2 linked regions of the Homo sapiens genome follow. The protein of the gene in region 2 interacts with the protein of the main gene of each other region in a biochemical or structural test. Each region holds a gene or a part of one and is shown on either strand. Other genes may lie near its edges.

What was found.
Region 1: the proteins of SKP2 (region 2) and USP18 form a complex in vitro, tested with the Homo sapiens proteins (one study listed by BioGRID).

Annotation. Positions count from the first base shown.
Region 1 is NC_000022.11:18,153,170-18,156,669, forward strand, and holds part of USP18 (ubl carboxyl-terminal hydrolase 18), read left to right. Parts: intron 1-3,500. UniProt on the Homo sapiens protein: Interferon-induced ISG15-specific protease that plays a crucial role for maintaining a proper balance of ISG15-conjugated proteins in cells. Regulates protein ISGylation by efficiently cleaving ISG15 conjugates linked via isopeptide bonds.
Region 2 is NC_000005.10:36,169,111-36,172,610, forward strand, and holds part of SKP2 (S-phase kinase-associated protein 2), read left to right. Parts: intron 1-1,233; coding exon 1,234-1,332; intron 1,333-2,492; coding exon 2,493-2,623; intron 2,624-3,500. UniProt on the Homo sapiens protein: Substrate recognition component of a SCF (SKP1-CUL1-F-box protein) E3 ubiquitin-protein ligase complex which mediates the ubiquitination and subsequent proteasomal degradation of target proteins involved in cell cycle progression, signal transduction and transcription.

The DNA of each region.
Region 1 (3,500 bases), on a different chromosome or scaffold from region 2:
TGTAATCCCAGCACTTTGGGAGGCCGAGATGGGTGGATCACCTGAGGTCAGGAGTTCAAGACCAGCCTGGCCAACATGGTGAAACCCCGTCTCTACTAAAAATACAAAAATTAGCCATGCGTGGTGGCACATGCCTGTAGTTCCAACTATTTGGGACACTAAGGCAGGGGAAGTGCTTGAACTCGGGAGGCAGAGGTTGCAGTGAGCTGAGATTGTACCACTGCACTCCAGCCTGGGTAAAAAGAGTGAAATTCCATCTCAAAAAAAAAAAAGGAGACAGGGTCTTGCCCTGTTGCCCAGGCTGGAGTGCCGTGGCACGATCATAACTCACTGTGGCCTCAAATTCCTGGGCTCAACTGATTCTCCTGCCTCAGTCTCCCAAGTAGCTGGGACCACAAGTACATGCCACCATGCTAGGCTAATTTTATTTTTATTTTTAGAAAATAAAATATTTTTTATTTTATTTAGGCAACATGCTATGTTGCCTAGACTGGTCTTGAACTCCTGGCTTCAAGCTATCCTCTTGCCTCAGCCAACCAAAGTGCTGGGATTGCAGGTGTGAACTGCCATGCCTGGCTTTCTATTCTCTATTTCTAGGAGATAAGCTTTTTGAGCTTTCACATATGAGTGTGAACATGTGGTATTTATCTTTCTGTGCCTAGGTTATTCCACTTAACGTAATGTACTCCAGGCTCATCCATGTTGATGGGAATTACAGGATTTCATTCTCTTGTAATGGCTGAATAACATCCCATTTTGTGTATATAGTCCACATGTTCTTTATCCATTCCTCTTTTGATAGACACTTAGGTTGATTCCGTATCTCGGGTATTATGAGCAGTGCTGCAGTAAACATGAGAGTGCAAATATCTCTTCAACATACTGATTCCCTTTCCTTTGGATATATATTCAGCAGTGGCATTACTAGATCATGTGGTATATCTATTTTTAGGTTTTTAAGGAATCTCCATACTGTTTTCCATAATGGCTCTACTAATTTACATTCCCACCAATGATTTGGTTGAGTTTATTCCTCACTCTGAGCAGCATGTTAGCTGGACTTAAACCCCGTCCAGCTTGTCTACATCTGGCCCATCACTTGCCAGTGGGAAAGGCACTTACTTCTTTGTATCTCAGTTTTCTCATCTGTCAAATGGAAATATAACAGTAATTAATTCACATGGCTGTGTAAGGATAAATAAGACAGTACATATAAAAGGCTTTCACCTTTTATAAGAAATAGTGCTTCGATGTTACCCATTATTATTATTTTATTTCATCTTATTTATTTATTTAGATACAAGGTCTCATTTGTTGCCCAGGCTGGAGTGTAGTGGCACAATCATAGTTCAGTGCAGCCTCAAACTCCTGGCCTCAAGTGATCCTCCTCCTTCACCCTTCTCAGTATTTGGGGCCACAGGCGTGCACCACTATGACCATCTAAATTTTTTTTTAGAGATGGGGTCTCAGTATGTTGCCCGGGCTAGTCTTGAACTCCTGGGCTCAAGTGATCCTCCCACCTCAGCCTCCCAAACTGCTGGGATTACAGGCCTGAGCCACCATGCCAGGCCTCATCTCTATATCTTTAGGGTTAGTCACTGGCACCTTAATTTGTTCATTTGGTGATGTCATGTTTCTCTGATTGACCTTGATCCTTATGGCTGTGTGTCAATGTCTGTGCATTGACATAGGTACCTAAGCCAGTCTTCATTGCCTGGCTTTGTTTGGGCTCGTCTTTCATCAGGAAACCCATAGGAGATTAGGGAGAGGCTGATTGGTCAGGACCCTAAGCCCATGACTGCTTCAGCTGTTGTAGTGCTGGGGGGTGCTCTAAGCCCAGCATCACTGTGGTTGGAATTCTTTGGCCACTGAGGCTGACACAGCCCTGGGTTATGCCTGAAGGCCATAGCTGCCGAGACTGGCACAGCACTGGGGCACGCCCAAGACCCACAGCTGTGATGGCGTGCTTGCTGCTGCTGAAGTTATTCAGGGCCCAGGGCCACTGTAGTTGTCAGGTAGTGATGTGGGCCAGATCGCCAGTCCCTGTTACTGGGGCTGTGGGTTCTCATCTGGCACTAGGGTGGGGTGAGATCTGCCTGTGGGTACTGGTCTAGTATCAGGGTGATGAGGCTCTGCCCAGTACTGGGTTTTACTGTAGTGAGCCTAGTCCTGGTGACAGGTGACAGCGTGCTGGCAGCCATCACAGCCCTCGCTCGCTCTCGGTGCCTCCTCGGCCTTGGCGCCCACTCTGGCCACGCTTGAGGAGCCCTTCAGCCCACCGCTGCACTGTGGGAGCCCCTTCCTGGGCTGGCCGAGGCTGGAGTGGGCTCCCTTAGCTTGCGGGGAGGTGTGGAGGGAGAGGCAGGGGCGGGAACTGGGGCTGCACGCGGTGCTTGTGGGCCAGCGCGAGTTCCGAGTGGGCGTGGGCTCGGCGGGCCCGCACTCGGAGCGGCCAGCCGGCCGGCCTGCAAGCCCCAGGCAGTAAGGGGCTTAGCACTTGGGCCAGCAGCTGCTGTGCTCGATTTCTCGCCGGGCCTTAGCTGCCTCCTGGCAGGGCAGGGCTCGGGACCTGTAGCCCGCCATGCCTGAGCCTCCCCACCCCGCAGCCATGGGCTCCTGTGCGGACCAAGCCTCCCCGACCAGCGCCGCTCCCGGCTCCACGCCGCCGAGTCCCACCGACCACCCAAGGGCTGAGGAGTGCGGGCGCACGGCGCGGGACTGGCAGGCAGCTCCACCTGCGGCCCAGGTGTGGGATCCACTGGGTGAAGCCAGCTGGGCTCCTGAGTCTGGTGGGGACTTGGAGAATCTTTATGTCTAGCTAAGGGATTGTAAATATACCAATCGGCACTCTGTATCTAGCTCAAGGTTTGTAAACACACCAATCAGCACCCTGTGTCTAGCTCAGGGTTTGTGAATGCACCAGTCGACCCTCTGAATCTAGCTACTCTGGTGGGGACTTGGAGAACCTTTGTGTCCACACTCTGTATCTAGCTAATCTAGTGGGGACGTGGAGACGTTTTGTGTCTAGCTCAGGGATTGTAAACACACCCATCAGCACCCTGTCAAAACGGACCAATCAGCTCTCTGTAAAACAGACCAATTGGCTGTCTATAAAATGGACCAATCAGCAGGATGTGGGTGGGGCCAGATAAGAGAATAAAAGCAGGCTGCCCGAGCCAGCAGTGGCAACCTGGTCAGGTTTCCTTCCATGCTGTGGAAGCTTTGTTGTTTCATTCTTTGCAGTAAGTCTTGCTACTGCTCACTCTTTGGGTCCACACTGCCTTTATGAACTGTAACACTCACCGCGAAGGTCTGTAGCTTCACTCCTGAAGCCAGCAAGACCACAAACCAACCAGGAGGGACTAACAACTCCAGACGCGCTGCCTTAAGAGCTGTAACACTCACCGTGAAGGTCCGCAGCTTCGCTCCTGAAGCCAGCGACACCACGAACCCACCGGGAGGAACGGACATCTCCAGATGCGCCGTATTAGGAGCTGTAA
Region 2 (3,500 bases):
CGCCTTGCTGTAAGAAGAATGGACTGGACTCTTCCATTAAGAGGGAAGCATGGGCCAGGTGTGGTGGCTCACACCTGTAATCCCAGCACTTTGGGAGGCTAAGGTGGGCAGATCACCTGAGGTTGGGAGTTTGAGACCAGCCTGGCCAACATGGTGAAATCCTGTCTCTACTAAAAATACAAAAATTAGCTGGGTGTGGTGGCAGGCACCTGTAATCCCAGCTACTCAGGAGGCTGAGGCAGGAGAATCGCTTGAACCCGGGAGGCGGAGGTTGCCATGAGCTGAGACCACAACATTGCACTCCAGCCTAGGTGACAAGAGCAAAACTCCATCTGAAAAAAAAATAAAAAAAGGGAAGGATGGTGGAGAGAGTTGTTCTGAGAATGGAAGGAACAAGTCAAGAGTTGAAATTTAGGAAATTAACTTGCCAGGTACCATGGAGGGTCCATCGAGGATAGAAGAAGCTAGAGTAGTTAAGGATACTGCTGTGTTCGTTCAAGTGAGAAAAGGTGAAGTCTGATATAAAACAGATAGCAGTAATAGCAGCTAATGTTTTGGGGCATGTATTATGTGCCAGATAGTGAATTTTGTAAATGCATTTTCATTTAATTCTGACAGCAACCCTATGAAGTGTGATCTTGTTTCCTTTTTATAGTTGTGGAAACTGAGACACAGGGAGACTGAGTAAGTCTTTTCCAGGGTCACATTGTTAGTAGGTGGCTGAACCAACATGTGAACCTAGTGATACAATATTCCAGAATTCTTACTCTTAATCACTAAGTTTTACTAACACAGGGCATTTGGGGATGTATTAGAGAAGATGGCAAATTTGAGAGATGTATAATCAAAAGAACCTGGTGATTTTACAAGTAGATGTTTGCAAGCTAATTCTAATTATGGGTGAAATGGATATATGTTTATTCCATTGTCTTTTTAATTCAAAAAGTACATTGATTGATATTCTTGTGTATTTGCTTCATAGTAAGTCTTTTATTACATTATATCATTTAATCTTCTTAATAACTCTGCCAAGAAGTTTGATAATACCATTTCACAAATGAGTAAACTGAGGCAAATTATCCTGTTTGATGTCTGAGAGATAGTGATATACATTTTAAACTCACTGACTCAAAGACCTGTGAGCTTAACTACACTCGCCTGCTTTCATCTAAATGTTGTTGATGAATAGTGTCTTACTGGTCTTTTTCTTCTGACGTTTTTCTCTTTTTCCAGTACTCTCGCAAAAAACTCAAATTTAGTGCGACTTAACCTTTCTGGGTGTTCTGGATTCTCTGAATTTGCCCTGCAGACTTTGCTAAGCAGCTGTTCCAGGTATGAAAGATGTGAGACTTGATTATAGACTCTTATGTCAAACGTAAAATTATCCCTCACATCTGTATAAAATGGGATGAACTTTTTGAGCTTTTTGTACTTTCCAGGCTCTTGATTTGGTGAATGCAAAATCTTTTGCCCTCCTAACTTTCTGTCCAAACTCAGGAGCCAAGTCAATTGAGTTTGCAAGTGATACTTGTATAGTGATCTCTTTTTTGTTTATTTGGAACTGTTAAAATAAGGGAAGTGTAGTAGTGTCTATCAACAGTATGGTTGTAAGAAATTTGCTCACACTTAACTGTACATTCAGGTTTTTTCCCCTATGGTATCTGTAGACCTAACTTACAATTTTTTATCAAATTTGGTGTTTTATAAATATAGACCGTAAATTTGGGCAATTCTATTAACAATATCTTTCATAATAATGTCAGCACATAAAGGGTACAGAGTTACAGATATTGCTAAGTGAGGGGAGTACATGCTTTTTGGAATACACAGTACTAGGCATATGTGTGTTTTTTAAAAATATCCCTTGGTCTCCATGGTACAGCATTTGAATCTGTGTCTTGTTAATGGTCCATTTAAAATAGATTGCCTCTGGATATGCGTGTTATCAGTGAGATCAAATGTATAGCCCTATATTTAGTCAGCAGTGCCAGAAGTGGGGAGTGGGGATTAATGGTTGTATTTTGTCTCTGAAACCCTCGTTTTTGCTCAGTTAGCAGAAGCACAGTAAGACGAAGTGGCTTTTTGCAATATCAGCATCTCTTTATTAGGAATCCTCAGTGCAATCCATCAATTGCGTAAAACATCCTGAGTGATTGTTCAGTCTGTGTTGGGTGGTTGGTAGTTTGAGAAAGCAAACATAAAAGACTGGCATTTCTACCTGCAGTACTGGAATAAGGTTTGAGCCATCAGGTGCTTCTCTCCATTTCGAGGAGGAGGCACATTCACTAAGGCCCTTCTGATCCCCTGGCAACTTTCAGGGGCAAACAGGGTATACTTAGGTGACTAAAGGTAGCTACTGTTAGAGAAGCAGGTGTTCTGTGCATGAAATGATAAGGAATCCATGGTTTTATATTTTCTTTGTTTGCAGTTTGAGGCAAACTCATTCCCGTGTGATGGTTTCATATTTTGTTTATTACCCCTCTTTTGTGCAGACTGGATGAGCTGAACCTCTCCTGGTGTTTTGATTTCACTGAAAAGCATGTACAGGTGGCTGTTGCGCATGTGTCAGAGACCATCACCCAGCTGAATCTTAGCGGCTACAGAAAGAATCTCCAGAAATCAGGTTAGAGCTTCCAAGCCTGGACCACTGAGGCCTTCACAACATAATAGATGAGATTCATTGAGCTTCTCCTAATCATTCCTCCACATAAGTTTTCTCATTTAATCCAGTGCATGTGTTAGTCCCCTTTTTCAGATGAGGTAGCTGCTAATCAGAATGGTTAGGTAAAGGTAAACAGCTAGTGAGCTAGAGCCAAGGTTTGAATTCAGGATCTAACAGTAGAAACCTTTACACTTGAAAACAATGTATTTTTAAGCAGAAAAACTTTTAATCAACTAAATGGTTAGGTAAACCCCAACATAAAAATACATAAATGTAGCATTTGATTAGTATTAAGTAGTGGTTGTTCATTAGGGGCTATTTTGTCTGTACGGGGACATTTGTCAATGTCTGGAGACATTTTTTATTGTCACAGCTGTAGGAGTGCTGATGGTCTCTCATGGGCGGAAGCCAGGATGCTGGTGGACGGTGTATAGGATGGAGAATAGCATGCACAATAATCTGGTCCAAACATCAGTTCCAAGGTTGAAAAACTATTATAAACTCTGTTAATAAGTTCATATTTATGACTTTTACTTTTTATTCAGTCCAAGAGGGCAACGAGGATTTTTAGATGAAAACAGGCATTAGAAGTCAAAGGTAGCAGGGAGCAGTCTTTAAAAACCTTAATATTCAGTTACGCTTTATTTTACTTGTATGTTAATGAGAAAATCTTGATTTGCAAAGATAAGTGATTACAAATGGCAAGTTTTTTAAATGGCTTCACCGTCTCAGGCCAACATTCAGTTTGTGGGCTCTACAAAACCTAGTTAAACCAGCAACACACATCAACCATATCTTGATGTTAGTACTAGCTTATTTGAGTGTGTTTTGTTTATTA